2 separate regions of the Homo sapiens genome follow, and region 1 is linked to region 2. The links come from fine-mapping of genetic effects on plasma protein levels. Region 2 holds a variant in brackets. A gene starts in the other region. All regions are shown on their forward strands.

Region 1 (5,377 bases), not on the chromosome of region 2:
GAGAATGGCTGGGCACATTAACGTACATTCACAGTAGGGAATATTCTGCAGCCATCACGTAAGTTAAGATCTAGATGTATTGATCTGAAGGGACATCTACAAAATATATATATTTTTTGAGCCGGAGTCTTGCTCTGTCGCCCAGGCTGGAGTGCAATGATGTGATCTTGGCTCACTGCAACCTCTGCCTCCCGGGTGCAAGTGATTCTCCTGCCTCGGTCTCCCACGTAGCTGGGATTACAGGCGCCCACCACCGCTCCCAGCTAATTTTTGTATTTTTAGTAGAGACAGGGTTTCGCCATGTCGGCCAAGCTGGTTTTGAACTCCTGACCTCAGGTGATCTGCCTGCCTCAGCCTCCCAAAGTGCTAGGATTACAGGTGTGAGCCACCGCACCCAGCCTACAAAATATTTTTTAATGAAAGAAGCAACTAACTAAAACTTTGTATAGTAGTTATGTTTTTATATTTTATATTCATATATGCAGTGATGCTCAATGGGAATTTTGCAAATCCAGGGGGCATGTGGCAATGGCTGAAGATATTTTTGGTTATCATGTCAGGGAGGTGCTAATGACATAGGGTTAAATCCTACAATGCACAACCTCCCTCAAAGAATTATCAACCCAAGATGTCAGTTGTGCTGAGCTTGAGAAACTCTGTCATAGGGAAAGGAAAAAAAGGATAAGCACCAAACTGCTAGCTTGTTCCTTATATATCTGTGCTGTTCAACTTATAATGTACATTTATTTTGACAACTGAAAATTATCCTATAAAAATAAGTTTATTGTGCTGGCAAAGACAATGATAGAGCAGAGGTGGCAGACTGTTCCCCAAGCCAACTGTTTCCAAAGGAGACCTGAGGGACTGGGTGTGAGTTGACAGTGGTGGGAGCTGGAAGCAGCAAGGGATGCGGGGACATCTGGGGAGCCTGGACCTGACCTTGGAGCTCACTCACACAATCTAAATAATCCCAGAGTGAGGCTGAGGTTTTCCTGAGTTGGATGAGGGCCTGCGAAAATTTCCTATTATTAGGCAAGCCTACTATGAGAGTGAGAAGCCTAAACTCAATTTCCATTTTATAGCCTGGAGTAAACCACTTCTGGTCAGGCAGCAGGGAATCATAACATATCAGAGCTGAATACCTCACTGGTTTGCTGAGGGGCAAGTTAGTAGGTGTTCCTCAGAAAGGATTTTGTGGTCAATTAAGACAGGGAAACTCTGGCTTAAACTGCAGGTAAATTAAATAAGAGGTCTTTACTGCAAGCCTAATCAGAGCCTTTATTATGCTAGTGTCCATCTCCAAAAGGGTGGTCATCAAATGCAGGCCCTCCCTGTCTTGACCAAGTCCTTTTTCTTGAGATCATGTCTTGAGACTTGGATGCCATGCAATACACTTTGGGAAATACTAACCTAGTTGAACGACAGTTTTACTGATGTAGAAATGGCGGCCCAAAGGATAAAAAGTAGCTGAACTAGCTGGTGGGGCTACTTTCCAGACCAATGCTTTTTTCTCCTGCCTAAGACCTTAACCACAGTTGCAAATTAACTACAGATCCTCAGAATTTTCGCCCAATTCAACTTGGAGGGGTTGCAGTGGAGGTGAGGGAGAAGGGAGTAACAGTGAAGCCATTCAAAGCAAAAACCACCTTTAAAGAAATTTTGGCCTTAGAATACAGGGTTTTTTTTTTTTTTTTTTTAATTGGTGGAGGGGGCACCCAGGAAGACCAGACGTGCTCCTGTGAAGCAACGCTCCACCACGTCCTTTTGAAAATACCGTAGCCTGCATGAGACAGGCGGGAGCACCTAAGCCTTCAACTCTCCCCATGTTGCCTCCAATTGACCTCACTGGGCCAGGAAAAGCCCTATAAACTGGTTTTGTATACTCTATCCAAGTAGTAAATTTACTAAAATTACTGGATCCTACTATATACCAGACCTCTGCAAGGCATTGAAGATTCAATGATGAGCATTAATTCCCACTCTAAGGGGATTTTTCTATCTGGTAGGGAAACTCAGATACCGCATGCAGCTAGCCTGTCACAGGGCTATACTGACTAAAGCTCACCCTAAGAAATTTGCACATCTTAGCCTATGGGCAACGGGAAGCCATGGACGGAATATGTTTTCCGTTTCAAACAAGGAACTCCAGTCACAGCAGGCTCTAACTCCATTTCCTATTATCAACTCCCCTTCCTGCTCCTCCTCCCTTAGTAGCCTCGAAAAAGAGTGGCCACTTCCTTCACATCACCAGGGCCTTGGTCCTGGTAGGGGGTCCCGCCCCCGGCCCTGTCCTCCTCCCCAGGCCGGGACCTCCGCGCCTCCCACACACAGTACAACTCTAACACGAAACTGGGCCAGGACTGCAGGTAGGTCCCGTCCAATGCGACACGCTCGCGACGGCCCACGCACTGCCAGAACCAGCCCTGCCACTAACCAGCCTAGTAAGGAACGCAGTGATCTTTAGGAGCCCACTTCTAAATTCAAATCATTTGGGGTTCAGTAAGTCTCTTCACAGACGGGGACCTAATAGCTTCCATTAGCAGCCTCCACGTTTGCTGAACACGACTACGGGGCCAGACCCACAGGAACTCCAATGTGGTTCAGCCGCTCAACTCCAGGGACCAAAAAGACTTTCCCACCTCCCAGCGTTATTAAAGGCAACCCCGCCCCCAAGCCTCAGCCACTACGCGGTGCAGAAAGAGGCAGAGCTGGGCATGCGCAATTTCCGCCCCCGCCACAGTCTTGGGAGTGGGCGGGCTCGAGGGCTGGGAGGAAGCCGAAAGCTGACCGAGAGGAGAAAGAAGCCCGCCCCCGGAAGTCCCTCCTGTCTCTGCAGCTTGTTCCCGGAAGTTTTGCTGCTAGTCGCGGACGCAATGGCTTCAAGGTTACTTCGCGGAGCTGGAACGCTGGCCGCGCAGGCCCTGAGGGCTCGCGGCCCCAGTGGCGCGGCCGCGATGCGCTCCATGGCATCTGGAGGTACTCGGGTCTCCGGGCGTGCCAGGGACCAGAGTGTTGCCCTCCCAGGGTGGTCCCAGGGCGGCAAAGCGGCGCGGCTCGTGCAGCTTCTCGAGGTCCCAGTGGCCGCTTTACGGTCCCCAGTGCCTCAGGCTCTGCAGGCATCTCCCTGTAATTCTGGACCGCTGCTCCTGCCGCTCCCCGAACTCACTCCGCTGCGAAAGTATCCTAAACGGAGGTGCCGGGTGACCTTGGGAGGGACCGGGGCTGCCACCGGGATGGGGAGGGGTCCGGCCTCCCTTCAAACCTGCGCCCACCTCAAGCAGAGTGGGTTCTACATGCTTTTAGACAAATGTCGACAAATTTGCCTCGGTGGTTGGAGAAAGAAAAGCTCATAGGCCGGGCGCGGTGGCTCACAACTGTAATCCCAGCACTTTGGGAGGCCGAGGCGGACAGATCCCCTGAGGTCAGGAGCTCAAGACCAGCCTGGCCAACATGGTAAAACCCCGTTTCTACTAAAAATACAAAAATTAGCCGGGCGTGGTGGCGCGCGCCTGTAGTCCCAGCTACTCGGGAGGCTGAGGCAGGAGAATCGCTTAAACCCGGGAGGCGGAGGTTCCCGTGAGCCAACATCGCGCCATTGCACTCCAGCCTGGGCAACAAGAGCAAAACTCCGTCTCAAAAAAGAAAAAAAAAGCTCCCCCGAGTGCTGCCGCTTGTGTGGATGGGTACTTGGTGGTTCTTAGGGGACCATGGATATGAGTAGCCTTTAGGAGCTTGTGAGCCCGCTAAAACTTATACAGAAGTTTCGGGGCACCATTTTCCTTGATCATTTCTGTTTGTAGTTTTTCTATCAGTCATTTCAGTCAGCGTCATAATTCACGTTATCTTCCTTTAGGTGGTGTTCCCACTGATGAAGAGCAGGCGACTGGGTTGGAGAGGGAGATCATGCTGGCTGCAAAGAAGGGACTGGTAAGGAGAAACTCCCTTCTGTGTCTTCTGTGTAACTTATGGCCTTGGATGTGTTCATAGTGGTCTCCTCTCTGGGAGTATTTGATACAGGAAACTTGGCTTGTAGGAACAGTCCCCTGAGCTTCTGGAAGGTAGGGCTTATTTGGCCTAATGGTTCAATTCTTGTTTTTTTTGTTTTGTTTTGTTTTTTGTTTTTTCTTCAGGACCCATACAATGTACTGGCCCCAAAGGGAGCTTCAGGCACCAGGGAAGACCCTAATTTAGTCCCCTCCATCTCCAACAAGAGAATAGTAGGCTGCATCTGTAAGTACCTCACCTCTATTTTTTATCCACTTGCTTAATATATCCTACAATAGTGTGTAAGCTGCCTCAAATCTTCAGTGTGTGAGTGCATGTTGGTAAGTTTGTCTAAGGGTCTTGACACTCTCAAGCCTCATTATGCCTGATAGTTCATCCTTACTGGAAAGAAGCGCAGCACAGCGGTAAGACTGGCTCACTGGGAGTGCGGCATGAAGGAGTACCCACCCAGCAAATATTTATTGTTATACTGCTTCTATGCCAGGCATCATTTTAGACACTAGGGATACATACCAGAACGGACCCTGCTTTGCGTTCTACATAGGCAAGGGAATTGTTAGAATTTACAGTGACCTTGATACAAGGTCAGTTTACTCATAGGTGAACTCAGAGCCTCAATTTCTTCATCTGAAGAATGGGAGGAGGGCTTGAACTGATCTCTTAAGATATCAACCATAGTCTTACTTGTGTATCAGAGATGTCTGAGGAAAAGAAATTCATGTTGAAAGTCTCCCTTTCTAGGTTGGATGACCATAAACCACCTTTTTTCCCTTTTAGGTGAAGAGGACAATACCAGCGTCGTCTGGTTTTGGCTGCACAAAGGCGAGGCCCAGCGATGCCCCCGCTGTGGAGCCCATTACAAGCTGGTGCCCCAGCAGCTGGCACACTGAGCACCTGCACTAAATTACTCAAAATGTGCTGTAAAGTTTCTTCTTTCCAGTAAAGACTAGCCATTGCATTGGCTCCTTCTCCCATAGATGGCTGGTCTTATTTCTTACCCGTATTCTTTGGTAGGCATGGAATATGCTTATTTTGGGAAAAGCTGTCTGTTAATGCTAGCTTGCCATCCACTTACTGAAAGTGTATAACCAGTGTATAGTGCTTAGATTAATAATAAGAATAGATCGACAACCCGTAATGCAATGAATGGGACCACCTGGTATGAGAGAAAGGGGCGGGCTGAGGAGTCAGGCTGACAGGACTTAAAATATTGGCTCCATCATTTGGCTCTATCTCTGTGGACATGTTCTCTGGGGGTCAAGTACAACTACAAAAAGGTAAGTACCTTACAAGGTGCTTAATATGTAAAGAGCTGAGTGGATAGTAGGTCCTCACAGTATCCTCATAGAGACAGGGTGGCCTTGTGAAGAGA
Region 2 (5,377 bases):
TGGAAGGAAGGGTTTTGTGGAGTGGGGTGGTGAAAGATGTTTGGAGTATGAGTTGGGCCCAGCTCACCGAAGTCCTGGAATTCCAGATTGAGGATAACTTGTGTTTCTTGTCTTTTCTACTTCTTCCACATTTATATAAAGGAGGGAGAAAGATATAACAGTTTTGGTTTATTTAGATTCTCTTATGGGAATTTTGGGAGTTTAATTAACAGCAGGGTGGTGAAATGACAAAAGCATAGCCTGGAGAGTTAGAAGAGACCTCATTGCTGGAATGGCTTTTGGCAAGCCCCTTTTTCTCTCCCCTCCCTTACCCTCAGTGAAAAGAGAATCAAGAGGCTAAAGTTTTCTCAGTTTTTGCTTTTTGTTTTTTTGGGGGCCCAAGAGTTTAACTTCATATTTTAAGGTGATAATGGAATGTATCATTTGTCTTCCTATATTTAATCTGAGAGAGTACAAAAAGGGGGCTATGGCTTGGTAGTGGATGGGGTGGAGGTGCAAGAGTTGAATGTTCAAGCTCCTCAGCACCTCTTGCTGGTCCTGAGAGGCCTCTTGCTGGTGAGAGGGCTGTAGCTTCTAGCTTCTACCCCTGTTCACGTTTAATAAATATAAATGTAAATAAATAGGTGTATAATACACATACTTTTCTAAACCTCTGTGCAGTCGTATTTAGATGAAAAATCCAGATTCTCAGCCACTTTATGTCATCATTTACCTTAAGCATGGCTGGGCTATTCAGATGCTAAGCAATTCAAGCATGTCTATATTGGAGGGCCATTTAGAGCTTGAGGCCCTGCTCTGGCTGTCTCTCAGCACAAAATGCTGGTTTTGGGGACCATTCTATATGGCTATGACTGTGAACAGTGCATATGCACATGTATGTATACAGGTATGACCTGCTGTTCCTGACACTGCATGTGAATGTGAGGGGCTCTGCTTCTGCCAGCCCCTCTGCCCTGCAGACCTACTCAGAACTGGATGCCCAACAAGCTTTAGAAGAGAAAGTAAAGCTTTCTAACTGTGAACAGGGAGGCCAGCTTGTTTTCAGGGTTCAGAGTAGCAGCACAGAGGATCCAGCCCAAGCACAGACACCTGATATTGTAGCACCTGCTCTTTGGATCTGTTCTTTGGATCTGATACGTGTCCTAAATAAAATGTTTCAGTAAAGGGAGCTTTTTTTCTTTCTTTCTTTTTGTCAGAATGGTATAACTTGGAGAGTTACAATATCTTTTCATGGTCATTTTCATACTAACCTTTAATAGGAAAGAAGGAACTAATGTAAATCCTGATATTTTGTGAAAATACTTCCAGTGGTACTTATATATGAAATTATTAATAAACTTTCAGCTTACATTTTTATTGCCTAATATATATGCAAACATACTTTACTTCAAGTTGAGGCTGCGCGTAGTGGCCCACACCTTTAATCCCAACATTTTGGGAGGCTGAGGCAGGAGGATCACTTGAACCCAGGAGTTCAAGACCAGCCTGGGAAACATAGAAAGACCCTGTCTCTACAAGAAAAAAAAAAAGAAAAATTAGCTGTGCATGATGGTGCACACTAGTAGTCCCAGCTACCATGCAGGCTCAGGCAGATCACTTGAGCCTGGGAGTCTGAGGCTGCAGTGAACCATGATTGCACCACTGCACTTCAGCCTGGGCAACGTAGTGAGATCCTGTCTCAAAAAAAGGAAAAGAAAAAATAAATACTAATGTTGGGATGCTTTTCTATCATTTTCTTGCCATGAGCTTACTTAATTGTACCAGTAATTCTAGGGAAGAGAGGGGAAAGTGAACATTTCATTTGAGACTTATCTTTCTATTAAGTTCAAGTTCACTGCTGGCAGGATTTTATAACTACTGAAGTACTTTTTGTTTTACCTTAGAATTCACATGAAAATTTCATGAACTTTAACATTTGGTTGGGAATTTAACTTTATTGTCAGACTATTTCTAGGAGGTCACTAATTGCATGTTTTTAAAAAACTTTAGTGTCAAATTAATTGAGATAGTATTTAATTATATCAAAACATTTGTTTATTTTCTGAGTTTGTTTTTTTACAATATTGGAAATAAATGACGCTGACATTTTTCCTTTTTCTTTTCAAGATTTTCAGCTGAACTCTCATCTCTCAACACTGGCAAATATTCATAAGATCTACCACACCCTTAATAAGCTGGTAAGTCATTCTTTTAAAGACAAAATTACCAACTGTTTGAAGTAGTCATTTTGTATAAGTGTATTTGATAAAAATTTAGATTCTAGATATTAGGATATCAGTTGTTTATGAAAATGCTAACGGTATGTGATTTCTTCGTAATAACGAACATATTTCTTTCAGAACCTAACAGAAGACATTGGCCAAGACGATCACCAAACAGGTATCTGTAAATGCTAACACTACTTAATTTTAAATAG[C/T]TTCTTAATATTAGGAAAGAGAAATACTAGCTATGAATGCGCTATGTTGTCATAATGTACTCCATTAACAAATTGTTCCTTGGCTGAGGTTGTTTTTCAGGGAGTAATGAAGGCAGCCATGTTATAGCTTCTTCCCAGTAGGAAATCTCTTCTGGAAGCACTTTTTAATGCCTTTAAAGAGGCTCGGGATTCTCATAGTTTCAAGATACCTTGTTTTCTCTACTGCAGTATTTTCATTTATATTAAAAAGGTGCTACAGTAATGCAATTTGAAAGGTATTCCACAAATATTTGAGAAATTCAGCTGAAAAATGATTTAATATGGTGTGTGTGTATGTGTTCATAGTTACTGAAGATTTAGAAATCAGAAAATTGAAGCTTGATTAGTATAAGTTATCCTCTAACCCTGTGGTTCTCAGAGTTTAGCTGGCATTATGATCACCTGAGGGAAGGCCTTGTTTAAAGTACAGATGTTAGGTTCCACCCCAGAGTTTCTGGTTCTGTAGACTTGGGGTGGGGCCCCAGAGTTTGCTCCTATGTGATGCTGATGGAGCTGGTCTGGAGACCACTCTTTGAGAACCACTTCTCTCAACTGTTAGTAATCATCAAGTCCAGAAACTTGCATTTGATCTATGGTTACTAAAATCCTAGCAAAAATTATTTAAACACATTTTAAAGTTTTTGAAAATGGCCATAGTAATAGACGAATTGAAATTTGTCTTAGTCTGGGCTGCTGTAACAAAAATACCTTAAACTGAGTAGTTTATAAACAATAGAACTTGATTGTTCATGGTTCTGGAGACTGGTAAGTTTAAGGTGAAGGCACCAGCAGATCCTGGGTCTGGTGAGGGTCTGTTCCTCACTGATGGTGCCTCTTGCTCACTGCATCTTAACATGGCAGAAGGGGCAGGCAGCTCCCTCAGGCCTCTTTTATAAGGGCACTAATTCCATTAATGAGGGCTCTACCTCCCTGACCTAATTGCCTCCCAACTCTACCTCTTACTACCAGCAGTCTGGGGATTAGCTTTCAGCATGTAAATTTTGGAGGGGCACAAACTTTCAGGCCATAGCAGTGCTTGTTGGGGAATTTTGAATAGCACAAAAGTAAATAGAGTGGAAAGTTACAGTCGTCTTTTAGACAACTATTTAGACGTCTCTTTAGATGACTAAATAGAGTGAAAAGTGACAGCTGTCACTTTCTGCCAGCACATGGTTTAACATTGGTTCTTTCAGACTTTTTTTTCAAAGCAAAAACTCTTTAAGAAAAAGGTATGATTTCTCATTTTCTATTCTTAGCATAAGTTTTAATTCTTTCCAGTGGAACCCAAACCTCCTGAACCTCTTTCAGTGTCATCCAAAGCTTTGAACTTCTATTTCTGGATAAAGATTTGTTCACAAATGAACTGCAGTTCAATCACCTTTTTTGACTTCAGACTTTTCTTTGCCAAAATAAAACAGTACAGCACCAGCATTTCCTCTGTAATCTTCCTTTATGATACCACCTCCTACATCTATAAAGTGTTTTGCAGCCAAGCCAGCGTGGAGCTACTCTTCCACAACACCTGGAAGGAGGAGCTCTATCTAAATGTCTGTTCACAAGAGCTTTCTCCATAGGTGGTATTGTATCATCTTAGGCACTGTACAGGTCATAGCCTGCAGCCTGTACAGACCCTCAGGTCAGGCCGTGGTATGCTTGGAGAGCTGGGCAAGGCAGAGCTGCATGCTGACCTCCTCCACAGACCAGAGAGCTTGCTGGGGGAAATGGCAGGTATCTCTTTAGAGAAGGGCATGGCAGAACGAGAAGGTGAGCGAAGGAGGGAATGAGAGGGTGCAGGATCCCTTCTCACATTTGTATGCATGCATATATGTTTATAGTCGTGGTTTTTAATTTAGCATTGGTGATATCATACTGTACGTGTTATAGTGTGTTTTTCTTTTTCATTTAATGGTGCATTTTGGGGGCTGTTGAGATTTAAGACTGTCCCCACCTTCTCTAAATTGGTTCAGAATCAATTGAAAATTAGGTGTAAGATGGAGACTGAAGTAACAGTGTTTTTGGAAAACACAACTTAGATGTGCAGCAAGAATGCACAGGACTTTCAGCATTTCACCTGAATCACTGTCACAACTAGATAAGCACAAGCCAGCATACCTGCTGACCCTTTACACCCTGCACTATGACAGTGGAAGTGTTCATACTCTTTCAGCTTGCTCCACTGCAGGCAGATCTGAAAGGGAGTTCAGAGGGGTTGGGCTTTCTGCTCATTTCAGGCTCTCTGCTCAGTTCAGTCTCTCAGCACTTAGATCAGGCACTCCTTCTTCCAGGGAAAGGAGTGAGACAGAGAGGCAGAGAATGCGCTAGGAGTGTTCTAGGAGTTCAGGGGTACTAAGGGTCCCTTCACCTGATCATTCCATATCAGCAAATATAGATCAACTCAAGGACAGTCAAAAACAATTTATTTAATAATTTTAAAAGCAGTATATTCGCATAGTTTTGAAAGAAGTATTGAAAAAATATAAAACAAAAAGTGAAGATTTCTGTCCCAGTTTATCACCCCTAGGTTCCATCCCCCACTAGTAGTCCACGTTTGACTTTCCAGAGGTAACTCTTCTGTTTGTTAACCAAATTATGGTGATGATGATGATGATGATGATGATGATGATGTATTTTTTCCTTAAATACAAGTGTACATTTATATTTGCCACTTTTCCACTCAGTATATCCTTGAGATCTTTTCATATTAACACATTTATAAAGCATCTGCTTTCTTTTTTAATGACTGTAATTTTCTAATCCATGGGTATTTTATAATACGTTCCTTCAGCCTCCTGTTGATTTATGTACACTTATGCTTATATGTTTAACTTTTAGCCACCACTAATAATGCAGGAATATAACTTTTGGACCAGTTTTAGTAGTTCTGAACTTTTGAATTAGATAAGTATTGTTACTATAGTAATT

Alleles and levels. Alleles are on the strand shown, and positions count from the first base shown. The strength of an association depends on the size of the effect and on how common the allele is.
As copies of C replace T in region 2, the plasma level of the protein whose gene starts at base 2,849 in region 1 goes up (moderate association).

Evidence for each region. PIP is the posterior inclusion probability: the model's chance that the variant is causal. Protein levels are from antibody-based Olink assays in UK Biobank. Linkage for the fine-mapping came from a reference panel and not from the study's own genotypes, which makes the PIPs less certain.
Region 1: COX5B starts here. The variant in region 2 is fine-mapped to the plasma level of the COX5B protein (UK Biobank, PIP above 0.99).

The regions. Positions count from the first base shown.
Region 1 is chr2:97,643,214-97,648,590 of GRCh38, forward strand. It overlaps COX5B (cytochrome c oxidase subunit 5B), which reads left to right and starts at 2,849. Exons shown (of 4, transcript NM_001862.3): 1 at 2,849-2,976; 2 at 3,854-3,927; 3 at 4,131-4,230; 4 at 4,783-5,170. The coding sequence starts at 2,874. The coding sequence ends at 4,895. RefSeq lists enhancers at 1,807-2,741, 2,544-2,593, 2,774-2,953.
Region 2 is chr4:51,861,331-51,866,707 of GRCh38, forward strand. It overlaps DCUN1D4 (defective in cullin neddylation 1 domain containing 4), which reads left to right. Exons shown (of 11, transcript NM_001040402.3): 2 at 2,107-2,177; 3 at 2,340-2,379. It also overlaps the pseudogene DUTP7. Among named protein-coding and RNA genes, the nearest start is that of DCUN1D4, 21 kb to the left of the region's middle. The variant C/T (reference allele first, on the strand shown) is at 2,417.